Linked DNA regions of Homo sapiens. The protein of the gene in region 3 purifies or fractionates together with the protein of the main gene of each other region. This does not show direct contact. Each region holds a gene or a part of one and is shown on either strand. Other genes may lie near its edges.

Evidence for each region.
Region 1: the proteins of KLK8 (region 3) and SLC2A8 purify together in Homo sapiens (affinity purification with mass spectrometry; 3 studies listed by BioGRID and IntAct, with this or other methods). This does not show direct contact.
Region 2: the proteins of KLK8 (region 3) and DDX19B purify together in Homo sapiens (affinity purification with mass spectrometry; 2 studies listed by BioGRID and IntAct, with this or other methods). This does not show direct contact.
Region 4: the proteins of KLK8 (region 3) and RAB39B purify together in Homo sapiens (affinity purification with mass spectrometry; 3 studies listed by BioGRID and IntAct, with this or other methods). This does not show direct contact.

Annotation. Positions count from the first base shown.
Region 1 is NC_000009.12:127,400,169-127,407,168, forward strand, and holds part of SLC2A8 (solute carrier family 2, facilitated glucose transporter member 8), read left to right. Parts: intron 1-2,388; coding exon 2,389-2,585; intron 2,586-3,491; coding exon 3,492-3,635; intron 3,636-3,790; coding exon 3,791-3,899; intron 3,900-4,649; coding exon 4,650-4,823; intron 4,824-5,251; coding exon 5,252-5,397; intron 5,398-6,943; coding exon 6,944-7,000.
Region 2 is NC_000016.10:70,302,042-70,309,550, forward strand, and holds part of DDX19B (ATP-dependent RNA helicase DDX19B), read left to right. Parts: intron 1-7,509. UniProt on the Homo sapiens protein: ATP-dependent RNA helicase involved in mRNA export from the nucleus.
Region 3 is NC_000019.10:50,998,315-51,006,588, reverse strand, and holds the start of KLK8 (kallikrein-8 isoform 1 preproprotein), read left to right. Parts: upstream 1-4,984; 5' UTR 4,985-5,057; intron 5,058-5,413; 5' UTR 5,414-5,421; coding exon 5,422-5,491; intron 5,492-5,870; coding exon of another isoform or gene 5,871-6,005; coding exon 6,006-6,165; intron 6,166-6,330; coding exon 6,331-6,593; intron 6,594-8,274. Other genes in the region: KLK9 (kallikrein-9 precursor), read left to right, coding at 1-131, 2,749-2,885, 3,329-3,478. UniProt on the Homo sapiens protein: Serine protease which is capable of degrading a number of proteins such as casein, fibrinogen, kininogen, fibronectin and collagen type IV. Also cleaves L1CAM in response to increased neural activity.
Region 4 is NC_000023.11:155,261,366-155,269,122, reverse strand, and holds the start of RAB39B (ras-related protein Rab-39B), read left to right. Parts: upstream 1-4,631; 5' UTR 4,632-4,834; coding exon 4,835-5,049; intron 5,050-7,757. UniProt on the Homo sapiens protein: The small GTPases Rab are key regulators of intracellular membrane trafficking, from the formation of transport vesicles to their fusion with membranes.

The DNA.
Region 1 (7,000 bases), on a different chromosome or scaffold from region 3:
TTTTTTTTTTTTTTTGAGACAGAGTCCCGCTCTGTCGCCCAGGCTGGAGTGCAGTGGTGGCTCTCTGCAACCTCTGCCTCCTGGGTTCAAGCGATTCTCCTGTCTCAGCTTCCCAAGTAGCTGGGACTACAGGCATGTGCCACCACACCTGGCTAATTGTTTGTATTTTTGGTAGAAAGGGGGTTTCACCGTGTTAGCCAGGATGGTCTTGATCTCCTGACCTCATGAACCGCCAAACCTCAGCTTCCCAAAGTGCTGGGATTACAGGTGTGAGCCACCGCGCCCGGCCGATAGGTGTGTCTTATGACTGAGTTCCAGGGACAGCTGGAGAAGGTGATACCCTCAGCTTTCCTGAAGCCCCCTCTAGGGGTGTGGGAAGGGCTGACTGCTTAGGTCAGTACCTTACTGTGCAGTGACAAACCAGAGGGCTCCAGAGGTGGGTGGGTCCCTGTAAAAATCTTCAGCCCGGGCGAGTAAAGGGCTGAGCAAGTCCCCTGAGAATGTCAGTGCCAGATTCACCATGTCGGCGAGTTGCAACGTGAAGGAGGCCGGGGTCCTGGGGACCCCGAGGGGCAAAGCTGGGCCAGCATGAAGAAACTTCAGGAGACAGGTGTGTTCTCATTAGAAAGAGGCCAGGCTTTAGAGGCCAGACCCAGTGGCTCACACCTGTAATCCCAGCACTTTGGGAGGCAGAGGTGGGCGGATCACTTGAGGTCAGGAGTTCGAGATCAGCCTGGCCAACATGGTGAAAACCCATTTCTATTTAAAATACAAAAATTAGCCAGGCGTGGTGGTGGGCACCTGTAATCCCAGCTACCTGGGGGGCTGAGGCACAAGAATTGCTTGAACCCAGAAGGCTGAGGTTTCAGTGAGCTGAGATCGCGCCACTGCACTCCAGTGTGGGCGACACAGTGAGACTCTGTCTCAAAAAGAAAGAAAAAACAAGGGCAGGCTTCAAATCTGACCATCCTGAGTTTGGGGATAGCCTCTCCTACGTGCTGTGTGACCTTGGCCAAGTCATACCACCTCTGAAAGCCTCAGTTTCTCTGTCTTGAAATGGGCATAACCTCATCTAGTCCAGTACCTGTCCATTAAATTAATTGACACATGAAAAGTGCCTAACAGTGGGTTCCAAATGAGAATTGTCAAGGGATGACTTGAGAACCATGGGGATCATCGGGGTAGGAGGCCTCGGGGGCCTGACGGGCTATGGCCTGGCCCAGGGCACAAGCCCTCTGCATCGTCAGGGCGGATGATACACAGGTCTTTGGTGTTTCATTTTTACCCACTTAACCACCCTAACAAATTCAGAATCCTGCCAGCGATCTGGCTACCTTGGGAGACCTGAGTAAACCAAAGCCCCCACTGTGTGCAGGTGTTGACATTCATCATTTCGGGGACAGGTACTGGGTGTCCACCCACCCGTGGCACTATCTTCAGCTCATCTTAATATGTGCTTGTTGCTTCTCCTGCCTTTCCTGATCAATTTCTGTGAGTTTCGATCCACTGGGGTGGGTGAACTCTGATAACTCCACAAAGTGACATGGTGGTGGCACGTTTGCTTCACATTGGGGCAATCATGTTCCAACGACTAGACTTCATAGAACAATTGTCTGCACCCCCAGCACAGAAGAAAAATAGGGACATCATGGCTACCTTAGAGGTATTTTTCCACTGGGAACCAGGGATGGGTAAGCCTTGGGCTTAGGAAAAATTAGTAATTAGAGCAGCAATGCCCTAGACTCATTTATTCCAGGGCCCCTTTGTAAGAGAACCTTTTAACTTTATATAAAACTAGGTAATTCTGCACTTATGCTGTTCTTCATACGTCAAGACAGCAAAATCCTCTCACCTCTCTACTTTCATGTATACTTTGAATAGATAATGCATTCAAATGACTCAACACTCAAGTGCCAGAGTGGAGAGATGTCCAGTGAAAAGCTTCCTCCGCCTCTGTCCCTTTCTTGTCTGGGGGAGTCCCCATTGCCTGTTTCTTGGTAGCCTTCAGAGAGTCTGTTCATATGAGGGACATGCATATTTATCCTCCCTCCCCCACCTCTTCTACAAATGGTGCCACATCATACCATGCGGACACGCAGCAAGCACCTCATCCTTCATTTTTGTGGCTACATAAATGTTTCGTTGAACGGATGCAGCCTAGTAATGTCCGCGTTGTCATACCCACTGTCGCTTCCGCAGCTGGTGTGATTGGCCCGTGCCATGTGCCTTCATGAACAGTTGTGATAATGGCAATGTCAGTAGCGAACATGAGGGCAGATGTGCAGAGGCAGCGAGGCCCCATCTCTGAAGCTGAGTCTTTGAGGCTGGCAAGGCCCAGGCTGGCTCACCCTGGCTCTGACGCCAGCCTCCTCCACCCACCCCCCGCAGGCTGGGTGCTGGAGTGGCGCTGGCTGGCTGTGCTGGGCTGCGTGCCCCCCTCCCTCATGCTGCTTCTCATGTGCTTCATGCCCGAGACCCCGCGCTTCCTGCTGACTCAGCACAGGCGCCAGGAGGCCATGGCCGCCCTGCGGTTCCTGTGGGGCTCCGAGCAGGGCTGGGAAGACCCCCCCATCGGGGCTGAGCAGGTGAGAGGCTGGAAGGCAGAGCTGACAGGAGTGGGACAGCAGTCACGGGAGGGTAGCACAGCCTGTTCCCAAGGCCACACACTTGGGGGGTGGGGGACAGGGAGGTGCCTATCCACCCTCCACCCTCAGCGAGGACAGGCCCAGTGTGTCCTGTCTTTGAGCAGGCCAAGACAGCTGGAGCCCCACGGAGCTGGGCCCTGGCCTCCAAAGTCACCAGCAAAGCCCGAGCTTTGACCCTTACTGTCCCAGGAAGAGAATGGCCAGGCCTGGTGGGGGATACAGAGGCAGAGCTGAGGACTTGGATTTAACAAAGGAGTTGCAAGGCAGGGTAGAGGGCTAAAAGTCTGGGTTTTAGAGTCACCCAGGCATGGGTTTGAAGCCCCCACGCTGCCCCTCACCTAAGCTTTAGCTCTTCACCTGTGATGTGGGAGTCAGCACCTGCTTCACAGTGCTGGGTGGGACTCAGTGGGGGAAAGGAAGGCGGGGCTTAGGGAGGAGGGGGGCTCAGTGGGGAGGGTGGGGTCAGCGAGGAGGATGGGTTCAGTGGGGAGGGGAGGGTCAGGGCTGTAGGAGGTGCTTAGCTAGGGCCAGGCCCAGACCTGAGGCAGGTGCTGGATGTGTTGGTGGTGGCAGGGATGAGGGCAGCAGCTTGCTCTTTGCCCAGATTACCTCTTTGTGGCTCCCCCCCACCTATCAGGAAGTGCCCTGGGCAGGTGAGGGTCATCTCACCTGACACATGGGGAGGCTGGGACTTGTCTGCACACCTGAGGACACAGGGGGTGCTGGGATGAGGAGCCAAGACGTGGGAGTCAGCGCTCCCCAAGCCTTAGGACAGTAGACCCCCAGAGGGGGGCCGCTTGCGGGAGGGGAGAGAGAAATCCTGATGGCCAGTATCCGTCAGAGCAGAGCTTTCACCTGGCCCTGCTGCGGCAGCCCGGCATCTACAAGCCCTTCATCATCGGCGTCTCCCTGATGGCCTTCCAGCAGCTGTCGGGGGTCAACGCCGTCATGTTCTATGCAGAGACCATCTTTGAAGAGGCCAAGTTCAAGGTAAAAGGGCCCTGCCTGGCCTGCCTCGTCCAGCCCCCACATAGATGGAGCTTCCTCCCCAAGCCCAGGGCCCAGCCATCCAGCACAGGCCTGGAGAGGGAGGGACCCAGCTCTCAGCTGGCCCACCTGACCTGCCTGGGCTCTGTCTCCCCCAGGACAGCAGCCTGGCCTCGGTCGTCGTGGGTGTCATCCAGGTGCTGTTCACAGCTGTGGCGGCTCTCATCATGGACAGAGCAGGGCGGAGGCTGCTCCTGGTCTTGTCAGGTGAGGGTTCACCCCTGTGCAGCCTCCCCGCCATGCGGGGGAGGGCCTTCGCCAAGGCCACCACACTGCAGGAGGAGGACAGGGAGCATTTGTGATGACAAACATCATGGACTAATGCGGCCATGATTTGACAGCAGCTTGTCACCAAGCACTCACTGCAGGCCTGTCCATGCCAGTGGCACTCCCACACCACGCCTTTAACCTCTGTGGTGAACCCACCAGAAGGCACTCTCACAGCCCCAGCTTATGACGGGAAAACTGAGGGCCAGGAAGGTGAAGTGACTCAAGAGTTTGTGGGTCCTTTTGGACAAGTGACTTTACCTCTCTGAGCCTCAGTCTCCCCCTCTGGGAAGTGGGGGTAATGGCAGTGCCTCCCTCAGCACCATTTTGAGGAGTGGGAGGTGATCCACGTGAGGCCTTCAGCAAGAGCTGCGGCCCACGGACATTTGGTACCCAGCAGCTGCTGCGAAGACGACCGTCGGGGCTGAGGGTTACTCGCTGCTGCTTCTGTGCCGGTACCTCCCATTTCCTCGGCCCAGAGGGTCTGCTCCGGGAACTTTTTGCAGTTCGCTGAGGTCCAAGGCGGGGTGGCTGCCACCCAGTCAGGGCTTCTGCGGCCAAGGTGCCAGAACACCAAGCTGGCCGTTCTCTGGGAGCCGGGCCTGCCCCTCTCAGAGGCATCCAGGCCATGCTGCTGCGCCCTGGGCCGTTCCCCGGGTGCCCCGCCCACTGCCGCCCTCCCGCCTGCAGGTGTGGTCATGGTGTTCAGCACGAGTGCCTTCGGCGCCTACTTCAAGCTGACCCAGGGTGGCCCTGGCAACTCCTCGCACGTGGCCATCTCGGCGCCTGTCTCTGCACAGCCTGTTGATGCCAGCGTGGGGCTGGCCTGGCTGGCCGTGGGCAGCATGTGCCTCTTCATCGCCGGTAAGGGGGCCTGTGGGAGGCTGGGCGAGGAGTGGGAGGTGATCCCCCCGGCCCTGCTGTGGCGGCTCCCGGCAGGTGGGGTCTTCCCCAGCCTCACCTCTCCTCTCGTAAGTTCCAAGCTCTGCATTTCTAGCTCTGACCACATGCAGCTGTGGAACTAGGCCCCTCTGCGTTCCTTTCACTTAATCCCCTGAGCAGCCCTCGAGCAGGCCCCGTTGTGACCCCATCTCAGAGACAGAGCCTGTGCCTGAGGAGGGAAGAGGCTGGCCGAGGCCTTGGCAGGAAAGCATGGAGCTGGTGGGACCACACTGGGATCCGGGACCCCACAGCCCCACAGGCTGGGAAGCTGGGTCTCTTGGCTCTGCAGCAAGCTGAGGAGCCCAGCCCTGCGGACCCTGATGCCTGTCTTGCCTGTCTCGCTCCCACAGGCTTTGCGGTGGGCTGGGGGCCCATCCCCTGGCTCCTCATGTCAGAGATCTTCCCTCTGCATGTCAAGGGCGTGGCGACAGGCATCTGCGTCCTCACCAACTGGCTCATGGCCTTTCTCGTGACCAAGGAGTTCAGCAGCCTCATGGTGAGGGCAGGCTCCACCAGCACCGCGTTCGTGCAGTCAGCCGAGAAGCACTTTCTAAAACCACTTGTATTGCAGAAGACCCAGGGTCGTGGCCTTACATGCAGCCTGAGCCCCACCATGCCTGGGCCACTGGCCATCTTGGGCAAGGCGACGTGGAGGCAGATGGGCTAGGCCAGATGGGGAACCCAGGCTGTGACCCCTTGGGAGTCCTCTGCCTGTCTTGGCAGTCAGACAGCACAGCTGGCCTCTCCCCTTAGTGAACGTCAGGAAAGCGGGCCTTGAGCCTAAGGTCTTACATGGGAAGAGTTGACAGGGCTGGGCTGCAGCCCCACCCTGGCTACTTCCTTGCTGTGTGACCTTGGGTATGATGCTTACCTTCTCTGAGCCCGCTTCTTTGGCTGAAACTGGAGGAGAGTAACAGCAGCTTGCTCTTAAGACGGATGGGAGCATTAATTCAGTTCATCCTGTTGCTGCCTTCTCACGGATGGACTGGCACAGGTGTGGCCCCTGTCCCGGGGCTTCCCAGCCAACAGAGAGACAGTTCTGGGGTAGATGATCTGGTTGTTTGTTCAGTCATTTGTGCCCTCCAGGTCTCCTGGCATGTGCCATGTCCAGGCCCATTCAAGGCGCCAGGGAGAGCAATGAACAAGATGGACAGGGTCCCCTTTATGACAAGGACGGGAAAGGCCATGGCAGTGGTGGGAGAATGAACCCCAGTGGGGCTGGGTTAGGATGTGGTGGGGCGGGTCATGAGGGGCCAGCCTGGAGTCTGTGCAGAGCTTGGGACCCGCTTAGGCAGGACTGCCCGGGGAGCACATCGAGGGGGCCAGGCCGATGCCTGGGGGTGGAGATTACTTGCTGCAGCTGGGAGGGGATGCGCAGCAAAGGAAGGAGGAAAAGAAGCCAAGAAGGAGGTGACAAAGGACCTAACAGTCCTTTTTTAGGAGAGAAAATGTCCAAGAGGCCAAGAGAAGGCCTTCGAGGAGGGAGAGATCGCCAGGTCCCAGAGGACCAGGAGCTGAGAAGCACCTTTTTAGTTCTGGCACGTGGGAGGTCACAGTGGTGGTGGATGGCAGGGACAGGTTCTGACTGAAGGCCCCATGTGCTCCTGGGGCCATGCTCGCTTTGCCCTGTCTCACCCATTTCCACCACACTATGAAAGAACCCACCGGGGGCCTCAGGGTGGGGCCAAAGCTGAGGGTGGAGGGTTGGTCTGTGGGCCCTGGAGTCAGACCTGGAACAGGAGCCCAGCTGTCACTGGATAGCGGGTCTCTGGCCTTGAGGCAGTCACTTCATTGCTGTGAGCCTCAGTTTCCCCAGCCATACGACCTCGGTATCTTGGACAGTGCTCGGCCCAAGCCACCAGACTGGATGCCAGACTATCCTCCATGTCCCAGAGCTGGGTGGAGATAAAATGGGTGTGGCCTTGGGCAGGGCAGGCTGGGGTCAGGGGACTGGACCCCCTGGTGGCAGAGCTGTCTCAGTGATCGCGTGGGGCTTCCTGATCTCTCCCCGCGTCCACCCATGGCCTTTCCTCTCTCTGCAGGAGGTCCTCAGGCCCTATGGAGCCTTCTGGCTTGCCTCCGCTTTCTGCATCTTCAGT
Region 2 (7,509 bases), on a different chromosome or scaffold from region 3:
TCCCGAGTAGCTGGGATTACAGGCATGTGCCACCATGCCTGGCTACTTTTTGTATTTTTAGTAGAGGTGGGGTTTCACCATGTTGGCCAGGCTGGTCTTGAACTCCTGACCTCAAGTGATCCGCATGCCTCAGCCTCCCAAAGTCCTAGAATTACAGGCGTGAGCCACCACACCTGGCCAGCCCTTTAATTTTTTTAAAAGTCAGGTTTATGGAGGTATAATTTACACAGAGTAAAATTAAACTTTGTTAGTGTACAGTTCTATGAATTTTGACAAAAGCATACAGTTGTGTAACTACCACCACAGGCAACACATAAACCCTCTCTACAAAGAACTACAACTTCTTGTAGTTCACTCCCTCTCCTCACCCTTCTCTGGCAGCTGCTGATATGTTTTCTGTCATTATAGTTTTGCCTTTTCCAACATGTCATAAAATGGAATCATATATATAATATATAACCTTTTGAAAAGTCTGGCTTCTTCCACTTAGTATTATGCATTTAGAATTCAACCAAGTTGCATGTATCAGTAGTTCATTCCTTTTTATTGCTGAGTAGAATTCCACTGTGGATATATATACACAGTTTGCTTATTCTTCTATTGATGGACACTTGAGTAATTTTCAGTCTGAGACAATATGAAGAAAGCTACTCTATACATTAAGGTACAGATTTTTGTATGGACATATGTTTGCATTTCTCTTGGGTAAAGTCAATATCAAAGAGTAGGATTTACTGTGTTATGTCGTATGTGTTTAACTTTGTAAGTTATGTGCCAAACTATTTTCCAAAGTGTATCATTCTGCTTTTCCAACAGCAATGGATGAGAGCTTCAACTGCCCCACACCCTTCCCTGCACAGTATTGTCAGTTTCCTTCATTCTAATAGGTACATGCTGGTGTCTCATTGTGGTTTTAACTTATATATCTCCCTAATGACTAATGATGTTGACAATCTTTTCATGTGCTTATTTGCCATGTATGTAACTTCTTTGAAGTGGCTTTTCAAACCTTTTGCCCATTTTTAAAGTAGGATTGTTTTTGTTTTTAGTTGGGAAGTTTCTTTATATATTCTGGATAGAAGTTCTGTTTTTTGTTTTTGTTTTTGTTTTTTTTGAGACAGGGTCTCACTCTGTCACCCAGACTAGAGTCAGGCTAGAGTGCAGTGGCATGATCTTGGCTCACTGAAACCTCCACCTCCTGGGCTCAAGGGATTCTCCCACCCTGTCTCCAGAGTAGCTGGGACCACAGGCATGCGCCACCACATCTGGCTAATGTATGTATTTTTTGTAGAGACAGGGTTTTGCCATGTTGCCCAGGCTGGTCTTGGAACACCTGGGTTCAAGCAATCCGCCCACCTGGGCCTCCCAGAGTGCTGAGATGGATTACAGGCATGATAAGTCCTTTATCGGATATGTTTTGCATATATTCTCTCAAACTACAACTTGTCTTTTTTCAACAGTACTTTTCAAATAATAGACATTTTCAACTTTGATTAACCTAATTTATCAATTTTTGTTTGTTTGTTTGTTTTTGAGACGGAGGCTTGCTCTGTCGCCTGGGCTGGAGTGCAGTGGTGCCATCTCGGCTCACTGCAAGCTCCACCTCTCAGGCTCACGCCATTCTCCTGCCTCAGCCTCCCGAGTAGCTGGGACTACAGGCGCCCACCACCACGCCAGGCTAATTTTTTTTTGTATTTTTAGTAGAGATGGGGTTTCACCATGTTAGCCAGGATGGTCTCGACCTCCCGATCTTGGGATCCGCCCACCTCGGCCTCCCAAAGTGCTGGGATTACAGGCGTGAGCCACCGCGCCCGGCCTAATTTATCAATTTTTAGATGATTAGTTCTTTTTGTGTTCCAAGATATACACCTTATCCAAGGCCACAAAGATTTTCTCCTGTGTTCTCTAGAAGTCTTATAGTTTTAAATTTTACATTTATGTCTGTAATCCATTTTCCATTTTGAGTTAAATTTTTTCTAATAAGGGGTATGCATTGAGGTTCATCTTTTTTTTTTTGAGGCGGAGTCTGGCTCTGTCTCCCAGGCTGGAGTGCAGTGGCGCAATCTCAGCTCACTGCAACCCCTCGCCTCCGGGGTTCAAGCAATTCTCCTGCCTCAGCTTCCCTAGTAGCTGGGATTACAGGCACCCACCACTATGCCCAGCTAATTTTTGTATTTTTAGTAGAGACAGGGTTTCACCATATTGGCCAGGCTGGTCTCAAACTGCTGACCTCATGATCTGCCCGCCTCGGCCTCCCAAAGTGCTTGATTACAGGCGTGAGCCACCGTGCCTGGCCGAGGTTCATCTGTTCATCTTTTTCACAGAGATGTCTTTTTTTTTTTTTTTTTGAGACAAAGTCTTGCTCTTGTCCCCCAGGTTGGAGTGCAGTGGCGTGATCTCAGCTCACTGCAACCTCCACCTCCCAGGTTCAAGCGATTCTCCTGCCTTAGTCCCCCGAGTAGCTGGGATTACAGGCGCCTGCCACCAAGCCTGGCTACTTTTGGTATTTTTAGTAGAGACAGGGTTTCACCATGTTGGCCAGGCTGGTCTCAAACCCCTGACCTCAGGTGATCCATCCGCCTTGGCCTCCCAAAGTGCTGGGATTACAGGCGTGAACCACCACTCCTGGCCAGAGCTGTCTTAATTGTTCCAGCACCATTCGTTTAAAAGTCCTTTGGTTTTCTTTTTTCTTCTGTTTTTCATCTTTGTCTCTTTTTTTTTTCTTTCTTTCTTTCTATATTTCCTGGGAGATTTTCTCAAGTACTGTCTGGTATATTTCATTTTCACTTCTACTTTCTTATTTTTAATTTCAGGAACTTTTTTCTTCTTCCTTTACTGTTCCTTTTTTACAGACAATACCCTGTACGGCTTTCATGGTCATAATATCCTCATCATTTGGAGGATATTTTTCTTCTTCTCTCTGCTCAGTCTCTGTTTCATGTGAGGCGTGTTTTATCCATATATTTCAGTGTCTACTTTTTTGTGATGACTGTTTCTCAGATGTCTGTAATCCTTGCTTGGCCACTCATATTTAAGAGTGAGTGACTAAAAAGTTGAGTGGAAGCTGTAAACACATGAGTGGGGCTTGTCTATTCTGACCTTAACTATATATCTTTAGTGGTCTATGTCAGCATCCTGAGAACTTTCCTCCCGGTCTGGCCAGATTTTGCAGAGAGGGATCCTCTAAACTCCTGCCTAGATGGTGGAGGTCTGACTCAGTGTTCTGGAATCTAGGTGGAGGAAAGGGTGAGGGAGGTCTCAGGACCCAGAATACCTGCTTCCACTTAATGCTTCTGTTTTCATTATGGCATCCCCTCCCTTAACTGTGGTCCTTATCCATTTGAGCATTTCTCATGCCTAACCTGGCAGGCATTGTTAACTGAGTAAATGAACTGTGTAGTTTGTTATTTGTTGCAAAGAAACTTTTGATCATTCACTCTCAATATGTAAATATCTATTTAGAAATTGCATACTTTACTGTTTTATTAAATATATTATGTACATTGTAAAGCAAATAAAAAAGTAATAAAGGCTGAGATAAAAATGAAATAATGCTTTCCTGTGCTTGTGTGTGCTGGCTTCATATTTTTATTAGCCAATATCTCAAGGCACAATATACACTTAGAAAAAAAACACATCATTAGTCAACGTAGAGATAAATATGTGTTTCAAGTAGTTCTGAGAGGTTTTTTGTTTTTTTAATTATTATTTTTTAAATTTTTATGTATTTATTTTTTGAGACAGAGTCTCACTCTGTCGCCCAGGCTGGAGTGCAGTGGCGCAATCTCGGCTCACTGCAAGCTCCACCTCCTGGGTTCACGCCATTCTCCTGCCTCAGCTTCCCGAGTAGCTGGGACTACAGGCGCCCACCACCATGCCCAGCTAATTTTTTTGTATTTTTTTGGTAGAGATGAGGTTTCACCGTGTTAGCCAGGATGGTCTCGATCTTCTGACCTCGTGATCCGCCCGCCTCGGCCTCCCAAAGTGCTGGGATTACAGGCATGACCCACAGCACCCGGCCTGTTTTTTTTATTTTTTAGTTCTGAGAGTTTTGACTATTTTAACTAACTTCTTGTTAGGTCAGTTTTGTTGTTGTTGTTGTTGTTGTTTGTTGTTGTTGTTGTTTTTGAAATAGAGTCTTACTTTGTCACCCAGGCTGGAATGCAGTGGTGTGTACATGGCTCACTGCACCCTTGACCTCCCAGGCTCATGCAGTCCTCCCACCTCAGCCTTGCAAGTAGCTGGGACTACAGGTGTGCACCACCACACCTGGCAAATTTTTGTATGTTTTGTAGACATAGGGTTTCACCATGTTGCTCAGGGCAGTCTCAAGTTCCTGAGCTCAAGCTATCACCTGCCTTGGCCTTCCAAAGTGCTGGGATTATAGGCATGAGCCACTGCACCCGGCCATTCAGGTCAGGTTAAATTGTCATTGTTTTAACCTATTAATGTGCCTAAGAGGGTTTGTTAGGAGTAGGTAGCTTTGACATTTTCTTTTTGGCTTGAGTTTGCATCATAGAGTTATCTTTTGGATAGAACAGAAACTCATAATAATGAATCCAGTGATAATAAAAACTCAGGTATGAAATGATTAACTCTTGCTGTTTTTAGCAGGCCCAAACTAGCCATTTTATTAACCTTACAACAACAAATTCCTGCATTTTATGAAACAGAATCTTGAGACCCTATTATTATGACATTATGGTGAGATTAAAGTGTACAGTTCACTGATGGTTGGTGTATTCAGAAGTGTGTAGCTTATATCACAGTCAATTTTAGAACATTTTCATCACCCCAAAAGGAAACTCTGTACACATTAGCAGTTACTCCCTGTTTCCCTACAAACTCCCCAGCTCTAGGCAATCACTAATCTACTTTCTGTCTCTTTAGATTTGCCTCTTTTAAACATTTCATATAAATGGGAACATACGGTATGTGATCCTTTGTGACTGGCTCCTTTTATTTAGTATAATGAACTAAGGTTCATTAGTTGTAGCATGTATCAGTACTTTATTCCTTATTGTTGCCAAATAATATTCCATTGTGTGGATATACCACATTTTATTTATCCACTTATCAATTTCTGGACATTTGGATTATTTCTACTTTTTAGCTACTATGAATAATACTGCTTTTGATTAATGTACAAGTTTTTGTGTGGACATATAGTTTCAATACTCGGGTATATATCTAGAAGTGGGACTGCTGGATTATATAGTAATTCTGTATTTAACTTTTGAGAAAGTGCCAGGATGTTTTCCAAAGCAGCTGCATCATTAATCTTTAAGATTAATATTGTCTATGAAATAATATGTCTTTTTTTATTTTTTATTTTTTGGAGACAAGAGTCTCGCACTGTCTCCCAGGCTGGAGTGCAGTGGCACCATCTCGGCTCACTGCAACCTCTGCCTCCCGGGTTTAAGCGATTCTCATGCCTCAGCTTCCTAAGTAGGTGGGATTACAAGCACGTGCCACCATGCCCAGCCAATTTTTCATATTTCAGTAGAGATGGGGTTTCATCATGTTGCCCACAGTGCTCTCGAACTCCTGAGCTCAGGCAATCCATCCATCTCGGCCTCCCAAAGTACTAGGATTACAGGCGTGAGCCATCACATCTGGCCATATGTATATATATGTGTGTGTGTGTGTGTGTATGTATATATGTGTGTGTGTGTATATATGTGTGTATTTTTTTTAATAGAGATGGGGTCTCATTCTGTCACCCAGGCTGGAATGCAGTGGCAAGATCATAGCACACTGTAACCTGGAACTCCTGGGCTCAAGCAATCCTCCCACCTCAGCCTCCCTGGTAGCTGGGACTATGGGCACATACCACCATGCCCAGCTAATATATTTATTTATTTTATTTTAAAATTTATTTAAATTTATTATTTATTTATGTATTTATTTTTATTTATTTATTTATTTTGAGACGGAGTCTCACTCTGCTGCCAAGGCTGGAGTGCAGTGGCACCATGTCGGCTCACTGCAACCTCTGTCTCCTGGGTTCAAGTAATTCTCCTGCCTCAGCCTCCTGAGTAGCTGGGATTACAGGCACCCACCACCATGCCCAGCTAGTTTTTATATTTTTAGTAGAGACAGGTTTTCACCATGTTGGCCAGTCTGGTCTCGAACTCCTGACCTCAGGTGATCCACCTGCCTCGGCCTCCCAAAGTGCTGGGATTACAGGCGTGAGCCACCACACCCGGTCTATTTATTTATTTATTTTTAAGACAGAGTCTCACTCTGTTGCCCAAGCTGGAGTGCAATGGTGTGATCTTGGCTCACTGCAACCTCCAACTCCCAGGTTCAAGTGATTCTCCTGCCTCAGCCTCCTGCGCCACCACACCTGGCTAATTTTTTTTATATTTTTTTAGTAGAGACAGGGTTTTACCATGTTGGTCAGGCTGGTCTCGAACTCCTGACCTCAGGTGATCAGCCTGCCTCAGCCTCCCAAAGCTCTGGGATTACAGGAATGAGCCACCATGCCCAGCCTATTTATTTATTTTTTAGGAGATGGGGTCTCACTATGTTACCCAGGCTTGTCTCGAACTCCATGAGTTCCAAGGATCCTCCCTCCTCGGCCTCCAAAAGTGCTGGGATTCAAGTCACAAGCCACCATGCCCTGTCAATATTTTTATTTTTAATCTTTATAGAGGTGGAGTCTCACTATGTTGCCCAGGCTTGTCTCAAACTCCTGGCCTCAAGGGAGCCTCCCATTTCAGCCTCCCAAAGTGCTGGGATTACAGGTGTGAGCCACTGTGCCCAGCTGTTTTTTTTTTTTTAAAGTTCTAGGGTGCATGTGCAGGATGTGCATGTTTGTTACATAGGTAAACATGTACCATGGTGGTTTGCTGCACCTATCAACCCATCACCTAAGTATTAAGCCCCACATGTATTAGCTCTTTTTCCTAATGCTGTCCCCCACTGCCCTCCCCCATTAGTGTATTCTTTATCCTTCAGAATTAGTGAAGGATTTTTACTGCTTTATAATGATTTCTTTTTTTTTTTGTTTGTTTTTCAGTCGGCTTTCTCCAGTTGAATGGTTTCCTTTTTGTTAAGTTGCTTTTTTCTAATCTCTTTAATGTGTTCCCTTTCTTTTTCCTCTTTCCCAACACCAAAGCAGAAAGGGACCAGAAACTTCTTGTCCATTTCCATGAATAGAAATGGGAGGCTGGGCGCGGTGGCTTATGCCTGTAATCCCAGCACTTCGGGAGGCCGAGGCGGGCAGATCACGAGGTCAGGAGATCGAGACCATCCTGGCTAACACGGTGAAACCCCGTCTCTACTAAAAATATAAAAAGTTAGTCGGGCATGGTGGCAGGCGCCTGTAGTCCCAGCTACTCCGGAGGCTGAGGCAGGAGAATGGCGTGAACCTGGGAGGCAGAGCTTGCAGTGAGCCAAGATCACGCCACTGCACTTCAGCCTGGGCGACAGAGCGAGACTCCATCTCAAAAAACAAAACAAACAAACAAACAAAAAGAAATGGGGCTCCTGGCTGGGTGCAGT
Region 3 (8,274 bases):
CATGCTGATCCGCCTGCCCAGGCAGGCACGTCTGAGTCCTGCTGTGCAGCCCCTCAACCTCAGCCAGACCTGTGTCTCCCCAGGCATGCAGTGTCTCATCTCAGGCTGGGGGGCCGTGTCCAGCCCCAAGGGTATGACCTGGCCCAGAACTCTCTCTGAAACTTGCTCCCTCACCCCTCTGTCTCTGCCTTTTCATCTCTGTCTTCTCCTTTTCTCTCTCCTCTCTCTCTCTGTCAGTCTATCTATCTGCCAATCGATATATTTAACCAAATATAAGATGCTAGCATTTTTAAGATGTGCCATTATTTCATGAACTGCGAAGAAGTGGAAGAAGGAGGAGGAGGAGAAGAAAAAAAGGAGGAGGAGGAAAGATCCCATTAGATCCCATTGATTATATAACACCATTTTCTGGAAGACACATTCTAATTTCAGAGTGTTTGTTTGTTTGTTTGTTTGTTTGTTTTTGAGACAGGGTCTCGCTTTGTTGCTCAGGCTGGAGTGCAGCGGTGTGATCACGGCTCATTGCAGCTTTGAACTCCTGGGCTCAAGTGATCCTCTCGCCTCAACCTCCCAAGTAGCTGGGATTACAGATATGCACCACCACATCCCACACCGGGGTCATTTTTTTATTATTTATTATTATTATTATTATTATCTTTTTTTTTGTATTTTTAGTAGAGACAGAGGTTTCACCATATTGGCCAGGCTGGTCTCAAATTCCTGACCTGGTGATCTGCCCGCCTTGGACTCCCAAAGTGCTGGGAAAACAGGCATGAGCCACTGCACCCAGCCAAAATTCTAGTCTTTTTTAAATCTAGTCATATCTTAGATTTAATTCAGATAATGTTAGAATCCTGGAGTTTTTTGATCCAGGGGAATCTGGAATGTTAGAATCTTGGATTCATAAAACTCTAAACGTTGAGCCTCTAGATTCTAGAATCATGGATACTAGTGTGTCAGAATCTGAGAATTCTAGAATCTTAGATTCTGGGCATTCTAATAGTATCCTGGAATCCACCTGATGCAGGAATCCTCTCTCCATTGCCTCTGAAAAGTGACCATCCATACTGTTCCAATTTTCTTCCCTCCATGAATAAAGCACTGATTCTGGTAAAAGATGCTGGGTGGGAATTTCCCATCATGCATTGCTCCATGATGGGACCTCCTTTAACTTAAGCCTTATGCTAAAAATTTTTATTATTTTTAGCAAAGATGAGGTCTTGCTATGTTGTCCAGGCTAGTCTCAAACTCCTGGCCTCCCAAAGTGCTGAGATTACAAGTGTGAGCCACTGTACCTGGCCCAGAGATGTTTAAATGTGAAATGCGTTCATCTTAGAATGGGAATAAGACCATGTCTCTCAGAGTCACGGATCACTGACCCATTAGCCAAATTGGGTCAGTGGATTGGAAAAACAGTCTGAATTTGTTGCTGCCAATATCTAAAACTTGGAAAGTTTTATACAAAAGCCAGGTTTCTGGATTCACCTGAAAAAGTTTGAAGAACTCACATTCCCAAAATAGCAAGCATTGGGCTGAGTCAATGGAGGCTGCCCCCTTCAGCCAAGATAAGTTCTCTGATTCACTCCAATGGACCCAAATGGCTCCTGTCTCCCTGCACAGCCCCCGTCCCCGACTTCTGTTTACCAATTCTGTTTATCATATCCCTTGATGCATCGGAGCCTGCACCCATGTCTTATATAGATGCACATGTGTATTATATATCCATATCCACATCTATACTGACTACACTGTATCTGGTATCTCTGTCTATGTCTCTGTCTCCATCAGTGACCATCTTCCTGCAAATCTCTTTCCTTTTATCTCACTGCCTTCATTCCACCCCTTGAGGTCTGGGTCTTTTTCTATTTCTTTTTTTTTTTTTTTTAAGAGACTGAGTCTTGCTCTTGTTGCCCAGGCTGGAGTGCAGTGGTGTGATCTCGGCTCACTGCAACCTCCACCTCCTGGGTTTTAAGTGATCCTCCTGCCTCAGCCTCCCGAGTAGCTGGGACTACAGGTGTGCAACAGCATGCCCAGCTGATTTTTTGTATTTTCAGTAGAGACGGAGTTTCACCATGTTGGCCAGGATGGTCTCAATCTCTTGACCTTGTGATCCGCCCGCCTCAGCCTCCCAAAGTGCTAGGGAGTTATATATGCATCTCCTCTTATCTCTTGGCTCTCTGCATGCATCTTTCTGTTTCTCTTCCTTCCTTTCTTTTTTTTTTTTTTTTTTTTTTTTTTTTTTTTTTTTTTGAGACGGAGTCTTGCTCTGTCTCCCAGGCTGGAGTGCAGTGACCAGTCTCGGCTCACTGCAACCTCCACCTCCCAGGTTCAAGTGATTCTCGTGCCTCAGCCTCCCGAGTAGCTGGGATTACAGGCGCCTGCCACCATGCCTGGCTAATTTTTGTATATTTAGCAGAGATGGGGTTTCACCATGTTGGCTGGGCTGGTCTCAAACTCCTGACCTCAAGCGATCCGCCGGCCTCGGCCTCCAAAACACTGGGATTACAGGCATGAGCCACGGTGCCCGGCCAGCCTCTCTCTCTACTTGGCCCTCTTCCTCCTTGTCTCCATTTGTTTCTCTTGTGTGCTATGACTGTCTGTCTGTCACTGTCTCTTGTCTCTATCTTTGAGAGTCCTAAATGTGGCTCCATTGGTCCTTTGGAAAAGCTGCAGGGAGGACTCAGGGCAGTGGGGTGCTGAGTGTGTTGGAGACAGTTGCAGATCCTTGACAGTTCTCTTCCCTGACAGCGCTGTTTCCAGTCACACTGCAGTGTGCCAACATCAGCATCCTGGAGAACAAACTCTGTCACTGGGCATACCCTGGACACATCTCGGACAGCATGCTCTGTGCGGGCCTGTGGGAGGGGGGCCGAGGTTCCTGCCAGGTGAGACCTTACTCTGGGGAAAATGAGGCTGTCCTGCCAAGTTTTCTAGGATTTAGGGGAGCAGAGGGGTCGGCCCCCAGCCTTCCTGGGTCAAAATGAGAAGGAGACTGGGATACCTGGTTCCTGGGAGAGGACGGGACCAGGGCCTGGACTCCTTAGTGTAAAAGAGAAAAGGTCTGGAGGTCCAGACTTCTGGATCTACAGGAGGAGTGGGCTGGGCGTCCAGAGTCTGAGTCCTCGGGGAGGAGGAGGTTAGGTCCTGCGGGGAGGTGGGCCCTCTGAGCTTTTACTCCTGGGTCTGAGGAAGAAGAGGCTGGAGATGGAGGACTCTCGGATGTTGGAGGAGGAAGGGGCTGGGGCCTTTCTGGGAGGGAGGAAGTGGCCCGTGTAATTGTCATGAACAGAGTGGCCTAACAGTTCCTCTGCCCTTCTCTCGCGTACAGGGTGACTCTGGGGGCCCCCTGGTTTGCAATGGAACCTTGGCAGGCGTGGTGTCTGGGGGTGCTGAGCCCTGCTCCAGACCCCGGCGCCCCGCAGTCTACACCAGCGTATGCCACTACCTTGACTGGATCCAAGAAATCATGGAGAACTGAGCCCGCGCGCCACGGGGGCACCTTGGAAGACCAAGAGAGGCCGAAGGGCACGGGGTAGGGGGTTCTCGTAGGGTCCCAGCCTCAATGGTTCCCGCCCTGGACCTCCAGCTGCCCTGACTCCCCTCTGGACACTAAGACTCCGCCCCTGAGGCTCCGCCCCCTCACGAGGTCAAGCAAGACACAGTCGCGCCCCCTCGGAACGGAGCAGGGACACGCCCTTCAGAGCCCGTCTCTATGACGTCACCGACAGCCATCACCTCCTTCTTGGAACAGCACAGCCTGTGGCTCCGCCCCAAGGAACCACTTACACAAAATAGCTCCGCCCCTCGGAACTTTGCCCAGTGGGACTTCCCCTCGGGACTCCACCCCTTGTGGCCCCGCCTCCTTCACCAGAGATCTCGCCCCTCGTGATGTCAGGGGCGCAGTAGCTCCGCCCACGTGGAGCTCGGGCGGTGTAGAGCTCAGCCCCTTGTGGCCCCGTCCTGGGCGTGTGCTGGGTTTGAATCCTGGCGGAGACCTGGGGGGAAATTGAGGGAGGGTCTGGATACCTTTAGAGCCAATGCAACGGATGATTTTTCAGTAAACGCGGGAAACCTCACCTTCTTTCTGCCTGAGCTGTGAGATGAGTGGAGAGCAAACGGGTGGGCGGTGAAGGGCAGATGAGGGAACCGGTACCGCCTTGCAACTCCCCCTTAAACCCCTAGTAAGTTTTGCCTAAAGTCTCTGTCCATCAGCCCTATTGCAGCAAGACTCCTGGGTTCTGCTTGGGTTGGTCTTGCCGCCTCCAGGGGAAGGGGAAACCAGGTCACAGTGCCTCCCAAACCTGCCCTCCCAGATCCCGGACCTCTCAGGGGACAGCGGGCGGGGCCTGATCCACCCTCTGGTTTCTGACCCTAGAAGACCTGCCTTTCTTCGGTTCCCGGTTACTGGCAGCAGCCCCCTCCTCCCACAAAAGATCAGGTTCCAAGCTTCTCCTTTTAAAAGTACTTAGAATTCAGCCCCCAGCTCTCTCCTCCCTCACACCCAGGAATCCAGGCCCCTAGCCCCTCCTCCCTCAGACCCAGGAGTCCTGGCCCCTAGCAGCCCCCTCCTCCCTCAGACCCAGGAGTCTGGGCCCCCAGCCCCTCCTCGGTCAGACCTAAATCCCAGGTCCCAGTCCCTCCTCCCTTAGATTTAGGAGTCCAGGCCCCCAGCCTCTCCTCCCTCAGACCCAGGAATCCAGGCCCCCAGCCTCCTCCCCTCTCAGAACTAAAATCTTGGCCCCCAGCCCTTTATGTTTCAGATCGTAGAGTCTCAGCACCGAGTCCCTCCTCTCCCTAGCCTCAGGAGTCTGAGATTCCAGCCCCTCCTCCCTCAAGATTTCACGTTCAATCCCCTCCGCCCCTTCTCACTCACACCCAGTGTTCCAGTTCCCAGAAGCTCCCCAGGCTCTAGTGCAGGAGGAGAAGGAGGAGGAGCAGGAGGTGGAGATTCCCAGTTAAAAGGCTCCAGAATCGTGTACCAGGCAGAGAACTGAAGTACTGGGGCCTCCTCCACTGGGTCCGAATCAGTAGGTGACCCCGCCCCTGGATTCTGGAAGGTGAGGTGCAGAGGTACTCAGATACAGACATCAGGCCCCGGACCCTCCTTCTCCAGATTCCAGGACCCCAGCCTCAGATGCCCTTCTCTGTCGAGATCCAGCAGTCTGGACCCCGGCTTCCTCCTCTCCCTAATTTAGGAGTCCCAGCTCCCAGCTCCCTGTCCCCTCAGACCCAGACATCGAGGACTCCCCCCTCCCTTGGAATGTAGGAATCCAGTCCCCCAGCCTCCTCCTTCCTCCAGAGAAGCCCAGAACAGCCCCAGATACTCTCGGCTGCCTCCCCAGTGCCCAAATCCAGAACTGGGAGCTCAGGCTCCTCCTTCCTGTTTACCGGCCCCGCCCTCTCCATTTCCCAGACCTCACCATGGGACGCCCCCGACCTCGTGCGGCCAAGACGTGGATGTTCCTGCTCTTGCTGGGGGGAGCCTGGGCAGGTGAGGAGGGTTGCGGAGGCCTCCGGAGGGGAGGGATCTGAAGGCAGCAGTGGCGCTGGGGAGTCTGTGGGAATGCCGCGGGGGTTATGTGGGTGCGTGTGCACGGATGTGAAGAGTGCGATACGGTGCAGGAGCCTCTGTGGGCTTTCCTCAGGGTGGACAGAGGCAAGAAACAGGTAGCAGCAGGTAGGAGTAGGTTCCGTGATGCTGTAAATTGTCTGAATAGCTACAGCCTTTGGGGGCTGCTTGCTTGGGGGCATAGATTCACCTGGGAGTACTCGGGGCCTGTAGACTCATGTGGAAGCATGTGGGGGCATTCTTGGGTGTGTGACTCTTGTATGATGACACATGGACTGAAATGAGTGTCCCCGTGTGGCAGCGTGTGGAAGCCTGGACCTCCTCACTAAGTTGTATGCGGAGAACTTGCCGTGTGTCCATTTGAACCCACAGTGGCCTTCCCAGCCCTCGCACTGCCCCAGAGGGTGGCGATCCAACCCTCTCCCTCCTGCTGCAGGACACTCCAGGGCACAGGAGGACAAGGTGCTGGGGGGTCATGAGTGCCAACCCCATTCGCAGCCTTGGCAGGCGGCCTTGTTCCAGGGCCAGCAACTACTCTGTGGCGGTGTCCTTGTAGGTGGCAACTGGGTCCTTACAGCTGCCCACTGTAAAAAACCGTGAGTGGATGATGGGGGCAGAGGTCAGCTGGGGCTTAAGGAAAGAGGGGGCTGGGGTTTCGACTCAGGAAGGAGAGAGCTGAGGACTGGACTCCTGGGTCTGAAGGAGGAGGGGGCTGGGGGCAATACCCCTGCCTGGGTCCCAAACTATCCCCACCATTACAGGAAATACACAGTACGCCTGGGAGACCACAGCCTACAGAATAAAGATGGCCCAGAGCAAGAAATACCTGTGGTTCAGTCCATCCCACACCCCTGCTACAACAGCAGCGATGTGGAGGACCACAACCATGATCTGATGCTTCTTCAACTGCGTGACCAGGCATCCCTGGGGTCCAAAGTGAAGCCCATCAGCCTGGCAGATCATTGCACCCAGCCTGGCCAGAAGTGCACCGTCTCAGGCTGGGGCACTGTCACCAGTCCCCGAGGTAGTGGGCTTGTCCACTAATGGGAGGGAGAGGAGGAGCTGGTTGGCCCAGTGGAACCCAAGCTATTGGCAAAGCTTGGTCCCCCAGAGGGAGACAAAGAAGGGAAAGTGATCATGATGTTGAGATTCACAAGCAGGAGTCATATGAGAAGCCTCGAAGATCTGACTACTAACAAGAGTGGTGAGAGAAAGAACCAACTAGCAGATTGTTAAGCAGGGCCAGAAAAGCCCATCCTGTATGGCGGAGAGCACTACCCTATGGGACCTTTGGTTGTATAGGATTTTATATAATCTTAACACACTTGGGATATTTGGACTTCTCAGAGGCCCAGGAAAACAGGCTCCTAAGCACCTTCTCCCCCACCTCCCTCCTTTTTTTTTTTTTTTTTTTTTTTTTTTTTTTTTTTTTTTTTGCAGGGGGACACAGTTTCACTCAATCGCCCAGGCTGGAGTGCAGTGGCACAATCTCAGCTCACTACAATCTCTGCCTCCTGGGTTTAAGCGATTCTCGAACCTCAGCCTCCCGAGTAGCTGGGATTACAGGCACCCGCCACCACGCGAGCTAATTTTTGTATTTGTTGTAGAGACAGGGTTTCGCCATGTTGACCAGGCTGGTCTCGAACTCCTGACCTCAAGTGATCTGCCCGCCTCGGCCTACCAAAGTGCTGGGATTACAAGCATGAGCCACCGCCCCTGGCCTTTTTCTCCTTCTTGAACCCAGGAAACCTGGGCCCTGGTCACCTCTTCCCTCAGACCCGGGAGTCTAGGCCCTTCTTCTCCCAGGACCCAGCAGTCCTAGCTCCCTCTTGACTCTGGACCCCAAAATCTGGACCTCCAATGAAGCTGTCCCTTTGGGACTCCAGAATCCAGAGAGCCCCTCGCCTTCCTTCACAGTGAAAACATTGGGACTCACCTAAGAGAGTCAAGGAGCTTCTCCAGGAAGTGGCAAAGTCAGCATTCAGGTCCCTGCCTGCCTCACTCCTGCTCTGAATGCTTTGGATGAGACAGTTTGCGGCTGTGGAAACACACGTGCTCGCAAATCAAGTAGATCAGTTCAAACTATGGCTCTGCCCTTTCTCCCTGGGCAAATTCCTTTCCATCTCTGAGCCTCACTTTCCTTATCTGCAAAATGGGAATCATTAACCAATAGATTTTTTAGCTACGTGAGGGTTCAGGTTACATCAGTTTTCTTCATTGTGTTCTCCTAGTGCTCAGAATGGTGCCTGCTACATGGTAGATGCTCAATAAATATTTGTTGAATGGATGACCTGATGAATAAATAATGAAATGAATGAATGCATCTCTCCTTCAAAGCGCTGTTGTGAGGATTAAATGAGATTATGAGCATATTGCTTTTGGCACGTAGAGATGCCAGATGGAAGTTTTTCCCCCTCAAAGAGGCTTTGGAGAAGTCTATTCCTCAAAAGAGGTTAATAAAAAAGATCAATTCCACCTTCAATCATTAATTCAACTCTTATTTACTGAGCACCTAGTATGCCTGAGGTGCTGTTGCAGGCGCTGGATATACAGCCATGAGCAAACTGTACAAAGTCCTTGTCGTTATGGAGTTGCAAGCTAGGTGGGAGAAATAGACAATAAACAAATACACATAAAATAAAACATTAGGCAAAGTGCTGTAAGGAAATATTGTGGAGCGTAAAAGGATAGGGAGTAATGGAGGG
Region 4 (7,757 bases), on a different chromosome or scaffold from region 3:
AGATACCAAAACTTATGGGGTTCAGATAAAGCAATGCTCAGAGGGAAATGTATAGCTATAAGTGCCTGTATTAAGAAAAAAAATCTCAAATCAATAACTTAACCTTCCAACTTAAGAAACTGGAAAAAGATGAGCTAACTAAAAGAAAATCAAGCAAAAGGAAGAAAATAATAAAGATTAGGGCAGAGATAAATGAAACAAAGGGAATAGATTAACAATAGAATCAATGAAACCAAAAGTTGGTTCTTTGAAAAGAACAACAAAATTGCCAAACTCTTTTTTGGTTCCATATGGAATTTAAAGTAGTTTTTTCCAATTCTGTGAAGAAAGTCAATGGTAGCTTGACTGGTCATTAGAGAAATGCAAATCAAAACCACAATGAGATAACATCTCACGCCAGTTAGAATGGCAATCATTAAAAAGTCAGGAAACAGTGGCACGTGCCTGTAATCCCAGCTACTCGGGAGGCTGAGGGAGGATAACTGCTTGAGCCCAGGAGATGGAGGTTGCAGTGAGCTGAGATCATGCCACTGCACTGGAGCCTGGCCCACAGAGCGAGACTCTGTCTCAAAAAAAAAAAAAAAGGAAACAACAGATGCTAGAGAGGATGTGGAGAAATAGGAACACTTTTACACTGTTGGTGGGAGTGTAAATTAGTTCAAGCATTGTGGAAGACAGTGTGGTGATTCCTCAAGGATCTTGAACCAGAAATACCATTTGACCCAGCAATCCTATTACTGGGTGTATACCCAAAGGATCATAAATCATTATACTATAAAGACACATGCACACATATGTTTATTGCAGCACTGTTCACAATAGCAAAGACTTGGAACCAACCCAAATGCCCATCAGTGACAGACTGTGTAAAGAAAATGTGGTACATATACACCATGGAATACTATGCAGCCATAAAGAAGGATGAGTGCATGTCCTTTGCAGAGACATGAATGAAGCTGGAAACCATCATTCTCAGCAAACTAACAGAAGAACAGAAAACCAAACACCACATGTTCTGACTCATAAGTGGGAGTTGAACAATGAGAACACATGGACACAGGGAGGGGAACATCACACACCGGGGCCTGTTGGGGGGTGGAGGGGTAGGGGAGGGATAGCATTAGAAAAAATACCTAATGTAGGTGACAGGTTGATGGGTGCAGCACATCACCATGGCGCGTGTATACCTATGCAACAAACCTGCATGTTCGGCACATGTATCCCAGAACTTACTATTTAAAATAAATAAATAAATAAATAAAAACTATTAGGACTAATAAGCAAGTTCAGCAAGGTTGGAGGATATAAAATCAATATGCAAAAATTAATTCCATTTTATAAACTTGCAAGGAGCAATCTAAAAATGAAATTAAGAAAACAATTCCATTCACAATAGCATCATAAATAACAAAATACTTGAAGTACAAAACTTATACACTGAACACTATGAAACATTGTTAAAACAAGTTTTAAAAACCTAAATAAATGGAATGATATCCATCTTGTGCTCATGGATTGAAAGACTTAATTTTAATAAGACAGCAACACTCTCCAAATTGATCTACAGAGTCAAATCAATACCTATTAGCATTCCAACTGCCTTATTTGCAGAAACTGATAAGCTGTTCTTAAAATTCATATGAAATTGCAAAGGGCTCCAAATAACCAAAACAATCTTTGAAAAGATTGGATCCTCCACAGTAGGAGGACTCACACTTTCTGATTTCAGAACTTTCTACAAAGCTACAACAGTCAAGAGAGTGTCATACCAGCATAAGGGCAGACATATAGACCAATGTGTATTGACCATTTCATTTCCTCTTCTGGGAATTGTCTCTTTATATACTTTGTATTTTTTATGTGTAATCTTTTATCATTGCCTTACTGTTTTAAAACAAATCAGCTTTATTAACATAGAAATAGAAAGTCCAAAAATACATCCATACATCCATGGTCAATTGATTTTCCAGAGTGTCAAAATCATTCCATAGAGAAAGAATAGTATCCTCAATAGAGTGCTGGGATAGCTGGATATCCACATGCAAAGGAATGAATTTGAACCCCTTCCTCACACCATGCATAAAAACGAACACAAAATGGATCATAGACCTAAATGAATGAACTACAACTATAAAACTCTTAGAAGAAAGAATGAGTAAACCTTCATGACCTTGGATTGGGCAAAGTATTCTTAGACATGACACCAGAAGCATGAGCAACAAAATAGAAACTCGATAAATTGTACTTCTTAAAAATCTAACTTTGTTTTTCAAAGGACACCCTCAAGAAAGTGAAAAAAAAGAACACACTGAATTGGAGAAAATATTTGCAAATCATATATGTGATAAAGGACTTGTGTCTAGCATATATAAAGAACTCTTATAACTCAATAATACAAAGACTAGTAATCCAGTTTAAAAATGGGCAAAAGATCTAAGTCAATATTTTTCCAAGGAAGATACACAAATGGCCAATAAGAATGTAAAAATATGCTTGAAGTCATCAGTCGTTAGGGAAATGCAAATCAAACTAGAATAAAGTACCACTTCACATCCATGTTAGAGAGAATGTGGAGAAATTGGAACCCCATAGGCTGCCAGTGGGATGTAATATGGTACAGCCACTGTGAAAAAGTCAGGCATTTCATCAAAGGGTTAAACATAGAGTTGCCACAGGACTGAGGAATTCCGTTCTTAGGTATAAATCCCAAAAAACTGAAAACAGATATTAAAAAAAAAAACCTGGCACATGAATATTCGATGGTAGGATTATTTAGAATAGCCAAAAGGTGGGAACAACCCAAATGTCCCTCAATGAATGAATGGATAAACAAGATATGGTCTATCCATATGATGGAATAGTATTCAGCCACAAAAAGGAATGAAGTACTGATACTTGCTACAGTGTGAATGAACCTTGAAAACATTATGCTAAGTGAAAGCAGCCAGTCACAAAAATGCACATATTATATGATTTCATGTATATGAAATGTTCAGAATAGGGAAATTTATAGAGACAGAAAGTACATTAATGGTTGCCAAAGGCTGGAGGAACATGGGATAGAGAGATGATAGCTAAAAGGTTCTGGGTTCCTTTTTTTAAAAAATATATATACATATTTTATTATACTTTTAGTTCTAGGGTACCTGTGCAGAACGTGCAGGTTTGTTACATATGTATACGTGTGCCATGTTGGTGTGCTGCACCCATTAACTCGTCATTTACATTTACATTAGGTAAATGTAATCCCTCCTAATGCTATCCCTCCCCCCTCCCCCCACCCCTCTGGGTTACTTTTTGAAGTGATAAAAATGTTATAAAATTAACTGTGGTGATAGTTGTATATATCTGTGAGTATATTAAAAACCTATGCTAAGAATTGTTCACTTTAAATGGGTGAATTGTACAGTATGTGAATTTTCATGTTAATGAAGCTGATTTTTTTTAAAGAGTAAGGCAACGATAAAAGATTACACATAGAAGGCCGGGCGCGGTGGCTCACGCCTGTAATCCCAGCACTTTGGGAGGCCGAGGCGGGCAGATCACAAGGTCAGGAGATCGAGACCATCCTGGCTAATACAGTGTAACCTTATCTCTACTAAAAATACAAAAAATTAGCCGGGCGTGGTGGCGGGCACCTGTAGTCCCACCTACTCGGGAGGCTGAGGCAGGAGAATGGCATGAACCCGGGAGGTAGAGGTTGCAGTGGGCCGAGATCGCGCCACTGCACTCCAGCCTGGGCGACAGAGAGAGACTCTGTCTCAAAAAAAAAATAAAATAAAATTACACATAAAAAATACAAAGGATATGAAGAGACAATTCCCAGAAGAGGAAATGAAATGGTCAATACACAAGACTTGGTATTGACCTCATCAGTAGTCAGAGAAATGTAAAAATAAAGCAATGAGACATATTTTTATTTAACTAAATTCTATTGAGAAGAATTAAGAAAGAATAAAACATACATATGATGCTTGAAATAATGCAGAGCGATGGTCTTTTCACACATTGCTGGGTAGAATTTAAACTGTTAAATAGTTTTGGAAAGTAGAATGCCCATGTCCGTTAAATTTAAAATACTTATACTCTTTGAATTCATGGCCCCTTTTTTAAGACTGTAGCTCACAGAAATAAAATACTTGTGGCTACACTTTAAAATAAGTTATGACAAAAGGGAAATTAGGTGGAAATGGAAAGATATTTATGTTGCTTTATTAATTGCAAAAAGCAATTATTAATTGAAAGTAAGGCCCCAGTTTAATTTTTGTAAAAACAAACAGCAATAAATGCATATAGGAATACAAACACATATAATATTTGTGTGTTTATGTGAGCATGGAAACACTTGTAGACTAATATATAATTATGTGCCTTCCCTTTTTTGTGCAGTTTTGTATTGCTTTGCTAGTTTCAATGAAAAGGTATGACATTGGCAGTTTGAACGACAGAGAACAGTTTTAATGAACAGAGGGTGGGTGGGGTAGTTAGAAAGGGAGGGATCGCGCTAATGTTGCAGCCATTTTGTGTGCGCTCCTCTTACAGATAGTGCGGCGGCCCAGGCGTCGCGTCTACGCGGGGGATTACAGTAACCCGGTTGTCAGTGATGAGTCAGAGTGCGTGGTGCTGATGCTGCTGCCATTTCATCACCTTTGCGAGCGCAGCATCCATCCCTCCGCTCTCCCGGCGCCTGGGCCTACCCAGCTTCGGGCTCCCAGGCCAGCGATGCGCTCGCGGCTGAGCTAGATCCTGCCGAGCCGCGCTCTCTGAGGCGTCGGCGGGGCGCCCCCTCCCGCCGTCCCCGGTCCGGGCCAAGGAGACCTGCAGAGCCGCGGCCATGGAGGCCATCTGGCTGTACCAGTTCCGGCTCATTGTCATCGGGGATTCCACAGTGGGCAAGTCCTGCCTGATCCGCCGCTTCACCGAGGGTCGCTTTGCCCAGGTTTCTGACCCCACCGTGGGGGTGGATTTTTTCTCCCGCTTGGTGGAGATCGAGCCAGGAAAACGCATCAAGCTCCAGATCTGGGATACCGCGGGTCAAGAGAGGTTCAGGTGGGAGCGCAGTCCGGGCCCGCAAGCAGTGGGAGGGTCTTCGGGGTTTGCACCGCCTCTGGGGAGAGAGGACTTCCTGGTTCTAGGTGCGGTCCAGGAGGGCAACACCAAGGGTCTTGAGGATTCTGCCGAAGCCCACCTTCGGCTAACCCGGAGTTTAGTGCAAGGAAAGAAGCGCCCTGGCAGGGAAGGCCGGTCAATAACACATATTGCTTGCACCACAACTCCACCAACCTGCCCTTTGGTGGCTAACAAACTAGCTGGAATTGATCTCTGTATCTGTAATTCATCAATCTCAGTCCCTATGTTACATACTTTCAAAAACGTTCCCAGGTCATCCTAACATAACTGACAGAGATTTAAATACATAAATACATGTGTATTATGTTTTATTTCCACATCTGTGTGTGTGCACATATATATGCTAACATATGTTCTAACATGAAATAGATACGATTGATTCCTTCTTGCAACCAGCACACATTCAGTGATCATCTACTATGTGCCAGACTCTGGGCTTGTTCCTGGGAAAACAGTGTGAGGAGACTCACACAAGGGGATGCCATGTAATCTAAACAGACAAAGCCCCTTCATTCTTGGAACTTCTGTGCTAACATAGTTGAGGGAAATAGATAATCAGCAATTACGAAAGTGTGTCTTGCTCATATTTGTATGCCCACTCCCTACTGTAACACTTGGCACAAAATGAACATGCTTAATTTCAATCAATGAATTCATTGAATAATCAATGAATATGTTTACTTTCACTCAGAACCCTTTGCTTTTCTATTGTAGCATGTATTATTTGTAATTATATGTATGAACACAGAGGAGGAAAGGTTAACTGGAGAAGATGAGACCGGATGAGTATGACTGCCTAAGCAAAGACAGGAAACGCCCAGGGATAGGAAACAGCATGAATAAAGACAGAAGTGAGAGGGAGCAGAGTGTACACAGAAAACTTTGCAGAGAACAATTTGAACTAAAGTAGAGCAGCAGGAACCAGATCAAGAAAACTCAATAGCCCAAGTTTATGATCATTTACTCATTTATCTATTGAAAACTAACTAAGCATAGAAGATACTGGTTGGGTAATTGAAGAGGGGTAAGGAGAAGAAATAATTACAAACTTAAGTTACCTCCAGCTCCCCACTTCCACAAACACCACTGTGGAAAATATCCTTGTACAGGTTCACTTTGAACTTGCGATTGCATTTCTCCTAAGCAAAGAAAGGTATCTTTTATGTGTTTGTTGGAATTTCTTTCTATATGAACAGCCTGTTCATATCCACTGCTTATTTATTTATTGGGCAATATGGACTTGTAAGAGTACTTTATAGATTAAGAATATTAACCCTTTCCTGTCATGTATGTTGTAAGATATATTCCTAGTTTATCATCTGTCTTTTCACATTATTTAAGATTTTTTAATGTAGGGAAGAATTTAAGGTTTATGTAGCCTTATGTCCATGCTTAGAAGGCCTTTGTCACTTTCTTTGCTAAGTACTCACAAACAATTAATGTAATAATATATTCCAGAGTTTTGACAGTGATCTACAGCTTGCTTGTTGATTTCTTGAATCAACCTTCTCACAAATCAAAACCTTTGTTTGTTCATGTCTAAATTTTCTGGTAAATCTACCATTCTCCATGAATCTTCAAACCTAAGAGACGAGAAATGCTTTCAGTCCCCAGGGCTGATTTGCCTGATTTTGGAGACTTAAAGTCATTTGTAAGTTTTACTTTTACCATCATCTAGCTTGGACTGTAGGTCCCTGGACAATGCTTGTTCTGCTAACATTGAGCCATTTTCTCTAAGCTATTGAGTCCTTCGTTGTCTATCTTCTTTATCTGAGGAGACAGAAAACCTAAAAATAGACATAGGTAAAAAAAATCACAGTAGTCTAAAGCAAGTGACTGCAGAGACAAATAGGTCCATACCCTGTAATAAGCTTTAATACACTGTAAGCAAAGTGCCATAATGTATATTTATAATGAGGTTCCTCAAGTCAAGAAGTTAAAACATGTGAAGTTTCTTCTGATGGCTCCTGAGTTGAGTTGGCCTCTCTGAAATGTGTCAGGAAACAGGGCTGAGAGGCACTTTGCCTGAACCCTTCGCCATCTCTCTTTTTCCCATTCCCACAGGCCTTGAAAATAAAAAATAAAATTGTGTTTCTCCTCACAGAAGAGATTGAGGATCCCTGTTAGCTAATAATAATAATAATAATAATAATAAACAATAATAATAATGGAAAGAGAAAAAAACATGGTAATGATAAATGGAAAAAATGGAGTAGCAAGATACCTACTTTAAATATTTTGTTAACTATCATAAATTCATTTCTATGTTTTAAAAATCCTGTTTCAACTGCTAGCATTTGTAATGAACTCTCCACGTCACAGAACACTTTAATATCCATTGTTTCATTTTGCCTCATGGTAACACTGTGACTTGGGTATCCTATTTTGCAGAAAAGGAAGTCTCTGTCAGTTATTCAGATTTGGGGGGTGGGAGAGTTAGTTGTAGTTTTACCTGAAGGCAAGAAATAGAACTCAGTTATGTCCCAGGGTCACTCTCCAGTGCTGAATCCATGGAAAATGCCTAAAAGTTCATGAACATTCGTTTCTAGAAGATGCCCATCTCAAAGTTTGGCCCAATTGGAAACTCACATATTAGTAGTAGTATGGAATGCCATTTGTATTCCTTT